Regions from separate parts of the Homo sapiens genome. Here region 1 is linked to region 2. The links come from fine-mapping of genetic effects on gene expression. Tissue or cell type: tibial nerve. Region 2 holds a variant in brackets; the other region holds the start of a gene. All regions are shown on one strand. Distances are from middle to middle.

Region 1 (8,102 bases), 140 kb after region 2:
AAGGATCTTGCGACTGGGGGTAGATAGGCTGGTAGGGTGGGGGGAAGTATGGGGGCTGGAAGTCGGCATTGGGGGTGTGGGACAGCGGCGGGGCGCTCGTGTAGGGAGATTGACCTACAGTGCCCAGCTGGGGCAACCGTGCCGTCCCGTTGCTGGTGCCGTCGTGACGGTCCTAGAAGAGAGCGAGAGGAAAGGTAAAGAACAAGGAATCAGGCGTCGAGCTACAACTATCCACACAAAATCCACTTGACAAGTCTGCGTGGGAAATCGCCCGTTCCCGTTGGCTGGCCGCCGGGAAAAAATCAGCTCTAAGTTCTTTTCAGGAAATACCCTCAAGTGAAACAGACCGAACAACGCAGAGAAACTGTATATGGAGGGGGCACAAGAGACTATTTAGGGGTTTCTTTCAAAGAGAGGAAAAGATAGAAAAGGGTCTCCTGGAACACAGCCCATTAAACTGCAGCGTGAAATCTCTCTTAAGCAAAATTAAAATTCCTCCTAAATACTAAACAGCAGAAGCGGCCTTTTCTTTTCCCCCGATTTGAACCTGTCTGCCACTGCGTTATTGTTTATTCTCTTCCATTTATTTGGAGAGAAAAAAATCATAAACGTTCAAAGACTGTTACCGTTTCATGACTACTTAAATAGAAACATATTTCGCAGAGGGGCTGTAACAAAAACACACGTTTAAATTACCAGCTTAAAGAAGGTTTTAACTGCAGGATCGGGGTCTGTCTTTTTCGCTTCCTCTGTTAGGAGCCTTTTTCTCGACAGAGTCGATTTATGGTTTGGATAGGGAAAGGGGGACGTCAAGTCAAGGTTTAAAATAGAAAGATTCAGCCTTATTGGGTTTAAAAGAGAGAGGTGCACCCCGGGGCTGTGGCCCCCCCCCCCCGCCCCTTCCACCCCAGCCCCAAAGGGCAGAAGAAACGCCTGACTTTAGGTTTCTCTATTGCAATTCCCTTGCAAAACAAGCGAAGAGAGTTGATTCCAGAGACCGCGAACCCTCGGCGGTTCGGCCGCAGGTCCCGAGGGTAGGGGGCACACCGCGCTGCACTTTTCCTGCAGACAGTTTAAGCATCAAATGTTGAGAACATCTCGGGGACAAGTGAAGACTCAAGGAAATCAAGATGAACGTGGGGAGAAACACGCCTTGGGAAGCCGCGGCGAGGTAGGTCTGCGTGCTCGGAGAGGTCGAGCGGGGGCTGGGGTAGGGGGTAATGCACTCGATTTAGGGATGGAAAAGAGCGAGAGAAAGGCGGAAGGTGGGGTGGGGGATGCAAATGGAGAGGGTGTCCTGAAGGAAAGCTGGGCGTGAAACCCGAGGTTTCGGGCAGCTCCACGGCACCAGGTTTCCAGAATCCAATTCCTAAAGAAACAGCAACGGGGGTGGGGATGGGACTCACCATGGCTGAAAAACTGTGAACTAACATCTGCGAAGAGTCTGGGGTAACGAGTCAGGGTGGAAAAAAACAAGCAAGCCTGGAGCGCCCGGCTGCCCCGCCGCCCGAGCGCGCCCCACACAAAAGGCGCCGAGAGCCCCGCGCCACCCAGGACTCCAGTCACGGCGCCGACGCTCCCCGGAGCGCGGGAGCCCGGCTCGGATCCATCCGAACTTGAACCACCGATTCGCGCGGCGCCTTCAGCTGGTCGAACCCACGGTCTCTATCCTGCCGCGACTGGTTATGATTCAAAGTTCTTTAAAAATGAAAAACCCCAAAAAAGGAAAAAGGAAAAAGTATGTGTGAGTGTGTGGGTGCGTGCGTGTTCCTTAATCCGTGTCTCCCCCTCTTTTCTTAGCGGCGGCTTCGCTTGAGCTTCTAATAACCGCGCTGGGCAGCGTTCCTGGAGCCTCCTAATAGCAGATATTCATGACTATTAATATTACACGAATACTTAATAAGGGAAGAATGCCTGGAAATCGAGCGTGAAGCGGAGAGGCAACTCGCGCCGGAGCCGGCTCTCAATGCAGTCCATTGACGGGAGTCTCAGTGTAGCAAATCGGAGTGGGGAGAGGGAGCGCGAGAGACAAAAAGCGAGCGAGAGAGGGAGCGGGCGAGCGCGCGGGGGGCCGCGGCGCGGCGTCTGGCGAATCACAGGGAAGGGGCAACATTTTAAAAGGTTGCAGGGCATGCAAAAGTGAAAGAGAAAGAGGCAGAGAGGGAGACCGAAGGAGAGAGCGCAGAGAGGGAGAATGTGTCTGCGTGCGTGTGTGAGAAAGAAAGTGTGGGCGAGGGAGAGGAGCCCCGGGTGGGGAGAGGGGAGGGAGGGAAGGAGGGAGAGCCCGAGAGGAGGAAGGGAGGGAAAGAGGGAGGGAGGAAGGGAGGGAGGGAGGGGGAGGGGGCCCAGCCGGAGCGCACGGAGGGGGAGGCCGCGGGGGAGGGGGAAGGGGAGAGGAAGCGAGCGAGGACAATCAGACCTAAAAGGCTGGGGCAGACCTCGGGATGCAGCGGGGGTCGTGCGTAGCGGGTAGGAGCTGCTTGGGACCGCGTCCGGGCGCTCGTGGGGCTCTCGGCGCGGCAGGCGCTTCCCGGCCCTGTCTGGCCGCGGGCTCCGCCGCTTCGCAGCCGAGTCTGGGACTCGGGACTCGGCTGCCCGCTGCTGCGCGGCTCCTCCATGACCCGGCGCCCTGCCCGGGACCGGCCCGCTCGCTGCACTGGTCCTCTCCTCGGCCTCCTCTTGAGCTTTCCTCGGACAGGGGCACCGTGCGCTCCCCGGCCACCGTCGCTCTGCCCTCGGCTCTCTGGGGCCGGGGATTCCGGATCGGGAGCCGGGATGCGGGCCGGGGCGCGCACAGACGCTAGGCGGCCCAGCCCGGGCGCCGCTGGCACCGGCTCGCGGCTCCCGGCAAAAACCCGTCCGACTGGCTGGGCCACTCCCGCCTGACGCCCCCCCAGATGACACGACTAGCTCTCCCGGCGTGCTGCCTTTGCCAGTCTACCCGCCAGGTTGTCAGAACAAGCGGCACCTCGCCTCCTGCGTGTCCCTACAGAGCCCCGGCACAATCAGACTGCCCCAAGCCAGCTCCGAAACCCGAAATCCCCGCTCCGGCGCTTGCCCACCACGGCCAAAGTTGTGGAAACAGCTTTGACTTTATTCTCCTCTCTCTCTCATCTTTTTTTGCCTCGCTTACACACGCATTCACACTTGCCCCCACAGGATCCCTCTAGGGGTGCAAGTTCATCCCCCACCTAGCCACCCACCCCATCCAGTCGGCACCTAGAGCCGCACGGAGGTTCGGACCCCGCCCGCCGAGGGCGCCCACACCTGGAGCTGGGTTTCGGCCTCTGCGAAAGTGAAATGCCCAAGCCTCCGGCCAAAGCCCAGACCAGTACAGTATGAATTGTCCTATGAGACTGAGGGGTTCGGCTTCATTCCTACCTGCCCGCAAAGCTCGCCCCCAGCCTCGAAAACAAAGCGACTGGTCTGACGTGGGGTCCCTGCGCCCCTCCTCTAGCGCGACAGGACCCCCCCAGGGAAGAGCCAGTACCCGTGGGATGTCACCCCGTCCCCATCTACCGGGGTGGGGGGCCTGAAAGGAGAACGATTTAAAATAATCTTCAGAAAGAAAAGGGAGGAGGGAGCGGGTGACACATCGTTCACATAAACCCAATTTCTGGTTTCGAGTGAAGTCAAGATCTCCGCCCCTGCGCCTGCACACACACCTCCTGCCTAACATTCTCAGCTGCAAATGCCAAAAAAGAAAAAAAAAAAAAACAGCAAAAGTTGGGACTGCCACCTATTTATTTAGGTAATCTCCAGCCCTACACACCCCAACCCCTCTCTCGGACTCATTGCTCATTACAGTGTTGGTTGTAACCGTTCCCAGCGCCTCCTGCGGGTGGACAGGTCGCGCTAGGGTCTCCCTTGCTGCCTCAAGAAGGCGAGCTCAGGGGACTCTGCGTTTTAAAATGGGTTCCAAAGCGGCGCGCTCTGTCGGCCCAGCGGGCTTGCGGCACCAGAGGTGGTCTGCAGCCGCGCAAGGATTCCCACGGTCGTTCTGGGCTGGTGCAGAAGCTGGTGCTCCCGCACCCAGCGGCCAGCAGGCTCGGCGCAGCACATCTCCCCACCCCACCCCCACACACCCCCGTGGGGTGCGTCGATCCTGTAGCTCAGAGGGAGAAGCTACTTAGAACTTCGTGAAGCACAGAGGATCTGGAGCGAGCCCCGCAGCTGGGATCAGTGGTCTTAAGTTGAACCCGCTTACAGGAAGATGCAGCCCAGCTCACAGCGAAGTGTGGGGGGGCCGTCTCTAAAGCCGAGAAGGGAACCGCTTTAGAAGTGGGGGTGGGGGGAAGAAAGAATGAATGAATGAATGAATGAATGAATAGAAAGAAGAAGGAATATTAAAGATCGGAGAGGAAGTTCAAGAGAGAAAAGAGTTTTCTCTTTCCTTTCTGTTCCTGGTGACTTGGGCCCTCAATCTCGATGAAGATAACACGAGGAGTGCACAGGCAAGTGCCCAGTTGCCAGCAATTGCTTCAAAAGCCCATGTTCTTCTTTTCCCCCATTCTTAGGCACAGCCAAAATTGGTCAGAAAGGGGAGTAAAGTGGGACACGAGCTTCAAAGTAGGGAAACCAAAGAAGGGAGCATCCACGTCCTCTCTCTGCAGCTTCTCCCCCGCGTTCTTCGGGCGAATCCGAGGGACGGGCGCTGCGCTGGGGAAAGTTTGTCCCACCCGCGTTTCGCAGCTGGTTGCAAGGAGAGGAGGAGGAGAGGGAGGGTCAAGCTCGGAGCCTGTGACCGCACGGATGATCGAGCCGGCGTCGCGCTTACCTCGCAGTCCTCGTACTTGATATTATCCGTCAATTTCCAAAGCATTTTCATGGATCGGCGTGAACGGATATGCCCCTCTCGGTCTCGCACCCAAGTGGAGCTACTCTCTGGGTGAGCGCAAAGTGCTGGCTGCCGGCGGTGAGCGCAGGAGGAGGAGGAGGAGGGAGAGGAGGTGGAGGAGGAGAAGGAGGAGGGAGAGGAGGAGGGCAAGGAGGAGGAGGAGGAAGAGGAGGGCGAGGAGGAGGAGGAGGGCGAGGAGAAGGGCGAGGAGGAGGAGAGAAGGGAAAGAGCTCCCGTGTGCGCTCGGAGATCTCCCTCTAATGGTAGAAACTTTTCCCTTTTCCAGCTCTTTACCAACAGCCTAATCGCCTCATTAGCATATCAACAATAGTCCAATTGCTCGCCAGTACCACAATCTGCCGCCGGCCGCTCCGACACAGGTATAAAGGCCTCTCTACGCCGCGAACTTGCTTCTAGAGCGCACTCCAGCCTGCGAACTGATAAAACCTTCCTCGAGCTCCGCCGCGAGGCCCTGCCCCAACACCCCCTCTCTTACCCCAATTCCGCCACATTCCCCTTCCTTTCTTTCTCCGCTTCCTTTTCTCCAGAGATGCCTTCTGCAAAGCCCGGCACTGCTCAAGGTCCAAGCGCCACGCCTGGGGCCCAGCTTCTAGCACTTCTCCCTTAACCCTGCTACCACGATCCGAGCTGCCCTTTTGGCCCCGTGCAATTTTATTAGAAATCATTATCCCTTTCGCAATTAAACATAACCACCAAACCAAGACCGGCGAAGTCACTCCAGGATTTTTTCCCAACAAGGGATCGCCTCCGCTCGAGGCAGCCACCCCCTCGGGCCGCAGCGCCTTGGGAGTTTTATTGGCTTTGAGCTTTCCCCCAGGTTGGAGATTCTGCCAAGCGGCTCCGGTGGCTCTGCTGGGGTTTGCAATCCCTTAATTGCAGCGTGTAAAATAAAAGTTGTACCCTGAAGAGGTTACTTGACAGCTCCAGGGGTTAAACAATTTTTCTCCTGTTTGTGTGAAGCTAGGGCCAACTGACAGTTCAAATTGGTGTTCAGGCTAAGGTTTCCTGGGTGCAACGTGGACACGAATACAGAACTCCTATGGAACTGCACACCCGCTTCTGAAGTTGAGCCTAAAAACAGACGTGTGTGTGCCTGCAAGTCTAGATACCGTCTCGTGCGTGCATCAAAATAAATCACCGGGAACCGACTTTTAGCTGTGTTAATCTGCTCTAGTTTTCCCAAGATTCCCCTTTTTAATTAAAGCAGGGAGAGTTCCTTCATGATTTGGTGATGCTACTAACGCGGGCGTGCTCGCGAGGCAGAGCCCGGCTGCCGCGGAACCTGGAGGCCTGGGAGCCACCTACTCGTCCAGACTGGTCAGTCCGGGCTTTTGGACTCCTCACCGGGGCCTGCTGGGTCCTCTGGGGCTTTTATCCCTTTCGGTTTTGGGATTTTTTTTTAAGTAAGAAAAAAAAAAAAGAAAAGGACCTAATGTGACACTAGGAAATACAGAGTAATTAATTTTCCTGGCTGAGCTTCCTCGTTTGTCCTCCAAAAGAAAGTTACCTCTGTCTTTTCTCTCTGCTATATGTACAAACTCCTTAACTACACTAGGTCCCGCCTCAGAGTTGCTCTAGTAAGGACCTTTGATTCATCTGGGCTTGTTTCTCGAAAATCTCCAGGCCTCCCATATTTCCACCGGGCGTTCCTAAAAGGGGATGGGAACTGTGGCAGATTGGAGCATTCCCTCACAGGTGGAAGGAAGGCAGGAGCTGGGAGAACTCCCCATTCCACCCAAGGCTGCAGAAGGGGAATTCTCCCTCCAAACACCTCAGCAAACTCCCCAAACCTAGCAGAGTAGGCAGAAGGCTCCAAAAAGCTAGGGAGAAGCCGGAGCTGGCAAGGGGCCTTACAGACCCAGGAAGCCCTCCCCATGCTCTGGGCCTCCCTTGCCCTACCTGAACTGAGCACAATTCCTCGGCTGAACCGGGCTGGAGGCTTGGCGCCGCCCTCCGTCCAGAAAATGGTCGACTTTCCAGGGCTAGACCCTGCAGGGCTGTCCCAGCCTGTCGCCAGTGCAGTGGTTTGAAGTCAGGATCTGGGCTGCCAGGAGCACCGACACCCTCCCAGCAGCGGCCATAGCCTGAGCAGGCCAAACCCTAGGCCTGAGAGCATGGGTTTTTACACTCCGTAGACGTCGCCGCGGTGTGCTTAAGGGAACTCCAAGTTTCGCTTTCTTGCCCTCTGCGGGCTTGGAAAGGCCGCCCTCCATCCTCTGCCACCCCATTTCAACCCCCGTTTCCACCTCCCCGCTGCCCCGCGCCCAACAGATCTCCGGCTCCGCACCCGCTGGGGCTGCTAAACTGTTGTTGTATTCCCGCCGAGGGCGCCATTGAGGTGCAGATTGGGACCTGCCGGCTCTGGACTGCCGCCCCCGGTGTAGGCGCTGATGAAAGGCCCGGGCGAGCGCCAGGGTCGCCTCTGGAGCCAGCCGAGCTGCATTTATGCCAGCGTCATTACCACGCTAAGTCGCTTCATTGCATGTCAATGCTCCGGCGGGGCCAGAACCCCGGGACAGCAGCGCCAGGCCTGGGGTTGGAGGTCGGAGATCCAGGCCTGACGTGGGGGGCATAAAAAGGGCGTCGCGGGGAAGAGGGAGTATTTGTGTGAGAGACAGAGTCACAAAGAGAAAGAGACAGTGAGGGGCCAGAACGACTCTCTTTTCTCCGATTGTCAATGCCCAGTGGGAGCCGGGAGCCCAACAGGCCCAGCCCATCAGATTCGGCCCCTCCGGGCCCCAAATCCGCTCGCCCCACCCGAGATCCAGGCCTCCAGCCACTTGCCTAACTGTGAGCCCGCAAGAGCCAGGCCCGCGGCTCCCTCCTTCCTCCTCCTGCGGCAGTCTCGCGGCTTTCAAACCTTAGTCGAACCCACAGAAGGCCCAGTCCCAGGCCAAACCTACTCAACAGGCACCTTCTCACGGCCTAGGAATTCTGCAGCGAAATTCACTGGAATTTGAGGAGAAAACCCAAAGACTGCTCCGAAAGGACTCCCCCAGTCTTCAGCCTCCAAATAAGAGAGTTAGGAAGGGCCTTTAGCCCACAGGGTCAGGAAGGGAAAGGTGTGGATTCCCGGGATTTGTCTCTGGTATGGGATTTGCATCCTTAAACCACGAGGTTTGTCTAAACTTGCGGATGAAATACCATTTAGTGAGGCTTAACTAGGGAGAAGAATATAAAAGAGCTCACTCTTGATAAAAGTAATAAATCCAAGGGAAAAAAGTACAGAACGCAAAAGGCCTTT
Region 2 (8,104 bases):
ATAATACCGTTGTCAAGAGAGCACCAGTGCAGAAGTTGATTTCGAATTCTTGGTAAGGTCACAATCTACAGTGTCCTGGATATGTTCAGTAGATCCTTTTTTCTTTTTTTTGAGATGGAGTCTCACTCTGTCGCCCAGGCTGGAGTGCAGTGGCACGATCTCAGCTCACTGCAACCTCCGCCTCCTGGGTTCAAGCGATTCTCCTCCCTCAGCCTCCCAAGTAGCTGGGATTACAGATGTGTGCCATCACGCCCAGCTAATTTTTGTATTTTTAATAGAGAAGGGGTTTCATCATGTTGGCCAGGCTGGTCTCAATGACCTCAGGTCATCCACCTGCCTCAGCCTCCCAGAGTGCTGGGATTACAGGCGTGAGCCACTGCTCCTGGCCTCAGTAGATCCTTTTAGCTAACTTTTTCCACTTGGTTTGTGCATTTCTTCACCATGCTGAGCTGACAGATACGTATAAGCTATGTGGTATAGAGGCAACTTTTTTTTTTTTCAGGCAACCTCAAGAGGGCTGAAAAAGTTTATAAAATGTTCTGGAGATGCATTCATTGAGGCTCAGTAACTAAAGCTTAACTCAGCCTTTGAGGAATTTATGCTCCTCTTGAGAATCAGCTTTGCCCCTTTGTCTTGCTCAGCCCACTGGTGGGGGTCAATGGGCACACAAGAACTCCCATGGCAACAGCAGGTGCTTCTCATTCAAATTCAAACTGGTCAGTTTCTTTCCTTTGTTCACTCTGCTCTCCTAAAACCATCATCCCAGTCTCCTTGCTGCAAAACTTGCCAAGTCATGAGAGGTAAGTCATAAAAAGTTGAACGCTTGACTTTTCGGGCTTTATAGATAGGTTTGTTTGCAGATACGCAGCATTAAAGAGAATTTAGCTACCTGTCATTTCTCTGACAGCGCACCCCAAGGTTGTGAACCCCTCAGACATGTCCAGTTCTTCTCTTACAACCAAACCTGTCTTCCCAGACACTTCTGAATGAGGAGGCCTAGGAAGAAAGAGGAAAAGAGAGAGAGAAAGTGTGCACGCACAGGCGCACAAACACAAAATCCGGCTTCCACGGAGGACAGCAGCAGCCTGCTGCACAGTGGGGACCAAGAGATACAAGGCTGCCCATGTAACAGATGCAAGTTTCCCGTGCTCCGGTTCAGCTGGGAATGCAGGCTGTAAAGCTGAAATAAATCACATGGAACTTGCTGTCATCTCTCTACCTTCCTGCTAAACCCTTCGACACTGCCGCTTGACTGGCTGGAGTCGTCGTAGTTTTTAAATGAAGGCTGGAAACTGGCATTGGCAGCACTGCCTAATTTTTAGCTAATACCTTTGTGGGTTCTGCGCTCGCATCTGGCCAGTGCCATCATGCTGGGGATGATTATAATAGGCTGCTGCTCTTTCCCAAGCAGGAAGCTGGAGTCCTGTAACTGACAGGCTAAACAGAAGCTTGTTCCAAACACAACAGCACATCACAGCCAGAGAAGGGTCTGCGGTGCGGGACTTCTCCCAAGGCATAAAAAAGAGAGAGAGAGAGAGAGAGAAATGTGTTAACTGTGCTAACAGTGCCAAGTAATATGCTTCGTTAAAAATTTAATCACCTACAAGTGCAAAACAAGTGCAAAGCAATCATGTTGTAATTAGCACAGCAATTAACACCTCCCTTTTCGATAGCACATGCATCCTAGGAAGGGCAGGATTGCAAGTGTTTATGCTGCTGACAGCCTCAGTTCCTATAGAGAGGGAAAAAATTGCTTAAAGAGAATTTTTTGGTTTCTGGCATTTGGGCTTTTATGTGTTCATGAAACCTCAGAACCAGCTGCCATTTTGGTTTTGTGTGAAAGTTGTTCAGCTGTGTGGTAAAACTAACTAACTTCCCCATTTTGTGTGTTAGCTAAAGCTTCTCACTAGCACCACCTTCACCTTTTCTAACATTAAAATATAAATAAATTAGTATTAGGACCAAATTTGTCATGTATATCCACACAATTTGCATGCGAAATGGTGCTTCCTACCAAAAGAAAAAGAGAATTGTCTTCCTCAGTCCTTTATCCGAAGCCAAAATTAAAAAAAAAAATACTCAATAACAGGATAAATGACTACTGGAAAAATGCTCTAAAAGTATTCCTGCCAAAAAATAAATAAAAATAAATAAAAGTATTCTTTCTATCACTTTAGAAAATTAGGTGTCTTCTATGTCACCAAGACCAGTTTTAAGGACTAAGCATCAGTTTTTGTTTGTTTGTTTGTTTGTTTGTCTGTTTTAATTTTACTTTAAGTTCCAGGATACATGTGCAGAACGTGCAGGTTTGTTACATAGGTAAGCACGTGCCATAGTGGTTTGCTGCACCGGGTCTTTGCAGTAAGCATCAGTTCTCTAAGGAAGTCAGGGAAGGAAGGAAGGTGGAGGATCCTTCTGTACCATCTCATATCAAGCCCAAGTCCAATAACTGGTCTAGATAGAACGTGGCACCAGAGCTGCCTGGTATTAAGCGAGAAGTACCTATTCCAGCATGTACTGCCTATTAACCTGATTTATAGGTACCCTAGAGCTCATCTCAATACATAGAGATTTGTGGGTAAAACAGTTGGGAAAATAGAGCAAGCAGTCTTCAATCCCCTACTGGAGAGTTAATCTTTAACTTGCCAATCTCTTGTCTCTATCCCAGACAGATGAAAGCCTGTCAGAGTATGCAGTCTGAGATGCCACTGACTAGAAATTCATCTAAGGCCCCAAAGTCCTTGGCACAGTTTTAGAAATGACTCATTATGAGAATGAAACCTAGTTAGCAACTCGAAAACTCTGAATGTCTTTGAAAAAAGTTATATAAGGAAATTTTCTTTAAGTATGAAACATCTAAGAATTTAAGAAACAATATGAGGGAAAAGCAAATAAAATCTTTAGGATGAATTTGTTTTATTCTCATTGGCCATTGATCATGGAATGAATATGTTTTAAGGAGCAGAGGAAACATTTGGAGTGTGATGTTTGAAGGCTAGAAAGCAATTACCTATGCTTTACATTTCTTTTTTCTTTTCTTTTTTTTTTTTTTTTTGGTTTTTTTTTTTTGAGATGGAGTTTTACTCTTGTTGCCCAGGCTGGAGTGCAATGGTGCAATCTTGGCTCACCGTAACCTCCACCTCCCAAGTTCAAGCAATTCTCCTGCCTCAGCCTCCCAAGTAGCTGGGATTACAGGCACGCACCACCACGCCCGGCTAATTTTGTATTTTTAGTAGAGGTGGGGTTTCTCCATGTTGATCACACTGATCTTGAACTCCCGACCTCAGGTGGTCCACCTGCCTCGGCCTTCCAAAGTGCTGGGATTACAGGCGTGAGCCACCGCGCCCTGCTAAGCTTTACATTTCTACAGTCAACTTTGTAACGACATTGCTAAGATAGGAGCAATGAAAAGCAAGAGTCCCTAAGAACTGGCTAACGTGCCAACAGTCTGCGGTCTATAGAAAGTGCAGGCATTCACAGAAGCTAGTCACTTTCCTGGTTTGCTGTTTCCTTTTCCCAGCAATTCTTTTGTTCAAGCTCAGACGCCCATCCCAAAAAGCTGAGAAAGGAAACCTCAGTAAGATA[G/C]AAGACACACTTTATAACAGGGCAAGCTGCAATGAAAAATTCACACTGGAAACCTCAGTAGGAAGTAAAATGAAACCCCTGTCTCAAATACAAAGAGGACAAATGTCTTATTATGCTAAAAAGCCTCAAATTCAGTGTGTAGAGCTACTTGGAACAGACAGTTCCCATAGTCACAGTTTTTATTCATTCTTACAAAAACCGTCCTTGAGACCGATGTTCTTTAAATATTGCTATCATTTGTAAAACTGGTTAAAAATGTCTGCTGTATTGTGGCCTTAATCCAAAGACCCAGATGATATATTTCTGCATTTGCATTTATTTCTAATAAATATTATATCTCTGTTGCTCGATGTTTATTTTCTCTTTCATGAGAAAGGCTTAAATGCCAGATAATTTAAAAACAAGTCATGTGAAACTTTTGTAATTATCATCTTACATACTTGCTAATTAATTCATTCATTTAATAAGGAGTACTTACTGTGTGCCTGGCGTTGATTCAGGACTAGGCACTTTTTACAGTGTAAAAACAAACTAGTAACAATGAAAAAAATAAGGACTCCAAGGCTGAAAGCGCTATGAGAAGCTTTTTTTTCACTATCATATCCCTATTCTTCCTAGCATGTCTTAGAAATCTGTGAAATGAATGAATGAATCAATGATCAACACCTCCACAAGCTGACAGCCTAGGAGTAAAGTCAGTATATAAATGTATCTCATACAACTTCTAAATTGATGAGTACTATAAGAAAGAGACACAGTTGGGTCAGAAGTTCAATGGGCAAATAATCGTAATAATTTTAAAAAGAGACACATTAAGTGCTAGAGGAGAATGGAGACATAATTCCATTTTAAGTGCTGGAGTGAGAAGATAGAGTTAGGATGACAGAAACAATAGGTGTTTCAGTTTTGCAGAAACATGGTGTCTCTCAGTGGGAATAATGTTGGAACAATGCTGGAAAGGCAGGTGATGGCAGATCACAGAAGCCTTGAATGCCTGCCAAAGAAAAGTAAGTTCAGAAAGAGAAGCCAGTAAGGGGAGTGTAAAACTGATTAGACTGGAAATAGACTGACAACAGAGAGACCAATTAGGGAGCTATTGGAACAGTCCACGCACAAGTTAAAGGTTACCTGAGCTGGGTAAAGCCAATTTTACAAGGAGTAAAAGTCAAGAAACTGGTGAATTTCTAGCAGAAGCTGACAAGTTAGAGCCAGGCCATGCCAAGCAACACACCAAGGTTTCGATGCTTAGTGGCCGGGGAGGTACACATTCTACTCACAGAAATTGGTACCACAAAAACAAGAGCATTTTGCAGAGATGAGATGAAGGTTTTGGTTTTAGATGTACTACTTTTAAAGAATGATTGGATATTTGGTGACAAATGAAAACACCTGGAAATGTCAAACTAAAGCCCAAGAAAGACATCTAAACTAAATGTAAAAACAAAACTTTAGGATCCTCTGCGTATAGTTTCAGAATCAGCATGTGGTTGAAGCCATGAAATTGAATGAGAGAGAAAAGAAAAGTGCAGATAGAACCTTGAATACTGGCTAAATGTAGGAGGGAGAAAGGAAGTCAGGGAGGGAAGAAAGTGATTCAGAGCCATGAAATCCAAAGAGGAGAATTTCCAAAGCTTGTGGTGCCAAATGCTGCAGAGAAATGAAAGTATATATGAACTGAGAAAAAGCCATCGGATTTGATCACCAGGAAATGATTGGTGACCTTTAAAATGCAATTTCCATAGACTGGTAAGGTCAGTAAACCAACTACTAGGAAGTAAGGGTGGAGAGGATGATAAATCAGTGGAAGAGAGAATACAGATGATGCTTTCAAGAACACTGGCCTTTAGGAGAAGGAAAAAAATAGGAGACTGTCTTAGGAAAGAACAGGTCAAAGGTCAGTTTCTTTAAGACAAGTGTCCCTCAAACTGAAGGAGAGTATTTATCAAATAAGATTGCAGATTCTTAGACAAGGCAGTATGGGGGGGGGGAAAGTTTAAAAACAAATAAATAAAAATAAAATAAAAGATTGAAGACACAAGTAGGAAGAGATAATTGGAGGAGCAAGTTTTTCAGAGCAAACAAGAGGAAATGTAATGGCCTGGAAGACTATCACTTCAGAGAACTAAAGTAGAATTTCTTCTGCTGAGGCAATAGAAAAAATGAAGACAAACTTAATGAAAAGAAATACTGAAGTGAAAAATGAAAAATTTTGAAGGACTTGACATTTTCCTTAAAACAGGAGGAGCCAATTACAACTTCTACTTCTAGGTAAATGAAGTAGACATAATTTTTTCTATTCTTCTTGCTAAGTACAACTACAGAACCTGGGCATTACATATAAAAGAAATGTAAGAAGGCTCTGAAAGATAAAAAGAAGAAAGCAGACCAGCTGGAAACCTAAGGACACAAGGAATAATATAGTGTTGAATTCCATAAGTTTTATTTTTGCCTCCTAAATCGTAGATTTGGAGCTAAGCAGTCAACCCAGAAATTCCAACAAGCACAGGAAAAACAAACAAACAAAAACCTCAAGAACCAGGAAAGGAAGAACAGCCTAACAAGACAGAAAAACTTGCAGATGGTAGTCATTCTACTCCAGTGAAACCCTACAGAACACCTGAAGCCCTACCACACCCACACCAGCAAAGGCCAGGTGGAAAGCCTAGACTTCCACTCTCACAAGGGTGTAACAAGTGCCCAAACATACCTACAAGGATAGTAGGCCTCAGAGAAGGCCAAATAGGGAGCTGGAACATTCATCTCTATCAGGACGTAATGTGAGTGGAGGCCACAGGGACAGTAACAAGGCACTGCTATGCTCCCCACCACAGAGCTCTCAGTGGATGCCTAGTGGGGAGCTGAAACACCCAGTCTCAGTCAGCACTAACAAGGACCCTCTAGATTTCTTCCCCTATATGACAGAAGGAGTCACCCCTACACCTATTGTCACAGAGTGTCAGAAGAAGCCACTCAAAACAGAATGTTGAAATAAGATCCAGAGTCTCATGACATACTACCAAAAAATGTCAAGGTTTCAACTGAAAATCATGCATCATACCAAGAAATAGGAAGGTCTCAAATTGAATGAAGAAAAGACAACCAACAGATCACATCAAGGTGATGGAGGTGTTAGAATTACCTGATGACAATTTTAAAGCAGCCATCATAAAATGCTCTAATAAGCAATAATAAACACACTTGGAACAGATGAAGTTGTAGGAAATTTCAGTAAGAAATAGAATACTCAGCGAATACTCAGCAAGCAAATAGAAAATATAAATGAAACCCAAATGGAAGTTTTAGAACTGAAAAACACAATAACCCAAGTAGAAAACTCATTGCATAGGCTCAATAACAGAATGAGAGAGATACAGAAAAGAATTGGAGAACCGAAATAGAACAATGGAAGTTACCCAAACTGAACAGCAACAACAACAACAAAAAATTGGCTGGAAAAAGGAAATGAACAGAGACTAAGAAATCTGTGGGACTATAACCAAGAGTTAACATGTATGTTAACTCTCACAACATTTTGTGTTAAGAGAGTCTCAGACAATAAGGAGAAAGAGGGTAGAGTTAAAAATGAAATAATGCCTGAAAACTTCCCAACTTTCTCAAACAGGATAAACCCAAAGAAATTGACACCAAGACATATCGAAGTCAAATTTCAGAAAACTAAAAACAAATAAAAATGATTGAAAGCAGCATGAGAGAAAGAGTGCCTTACTTATAGGTGGATAAATAATTCAAAGACAACATATTTCTTATCAGAAATCATGGAGGCCAGAATAAAGTGGCATGACATTTTACAAGTGCTGAAAGAAAAGAATTGTCTATCAGAGTTCTATAACTATCAAAAATGTCCCTCAGAAATGAAAGGGAAATCAAGAAATTCACAGATGAAGAAAAATTAAGATAATTTTTCACCAGCAGATCTACCCTAACAGAATGGCTAGAGGAAGTTCTCTAAGCAGAAAGGAAACCAACAAACAGTGAGGAAGAAAGAACACAGTAAGTATTAATATGAGTAAATACAATACGCTTTCCTCGCATCTTCAGAATTATGTCTGACAGTTGAGGCAAAAATTATAACACTGTCTCATATGGTACTAAATGTTTGTAGAGGAAATATATAAGACAATTCTATTGTAAAGAGGAATGCTAAAGAAATATAAAGAGATGCAACTTTCTTGTACTTTTCTCAAACCAGTAAAATGATAACATCAGCAGGCTACAATAAGTTATACACATAGAATGCAATACTGAGAGAAACCACTAAAAATATATACACAGAGATACATTCAAAATATTATAGGTAAATCCAAATGGAATTCTAAAAAATGTTCAAGTAATGCAGAGGAGGGCAGGGAAAAGGAAACAGAAAAATAAAAAATAGAACAAACCAAAAACAAACAAACAAAAAACCCAGCAGACTTAAGCCCTAACATATCAATAATTACATTAAATTTCAGTAGTCTAAATATACCAATTAAAAGACAAATATTGGCAGAGTAGATGA

The links. PIP is the estimated chance that this variant, and not a neighbour inherited with it, causes the effect.
Region 1: it holds the start of TFAP2A, and the variant in region 2 is fine-mapped to the expression of TFAP2A in tibial nerve (GTEx, PIP above 0.99).

The regions. Positions count from the first base shown.
Region 1 is chr6:10,410,164-10,418,265 of GRCh38, forward strand. TFAP2A (transcription factor AP-2 alpha) reads right to left here and starts at 4,911. Exons shown (of 7, transcript NM_001372066.1): 1 at 4,778-4,911; 2 at 1-172. The coding sequence starts at 4,828. It overlaps TFAP2A-AS1 (TFAP2A antisense RNA 1), which reads left to right and starts at 2,155. Exons shown (of 3, transcript NR_033910.1): 1 at 2,155-2,204; 2 at 4,518-4,888; 3 at 5,124-6,006. RefSeq lists a silencer at 2,395-2,754 and enhancers at 4,135-4,792, 4,793-5,452, 6,111-6,768, 6,769-7,426.
Region 2 is chr6:10,267,566-10,275,669 of GRCh38, forward strand. No RefSeq gene overlaps it. Among named protein-coding and RNA genes, the nearest start is that of TFAP2A-AS2, 130 kb to the right of the region's middle. The variant G/C (reference allele first, on the strand shown) is at 3,586.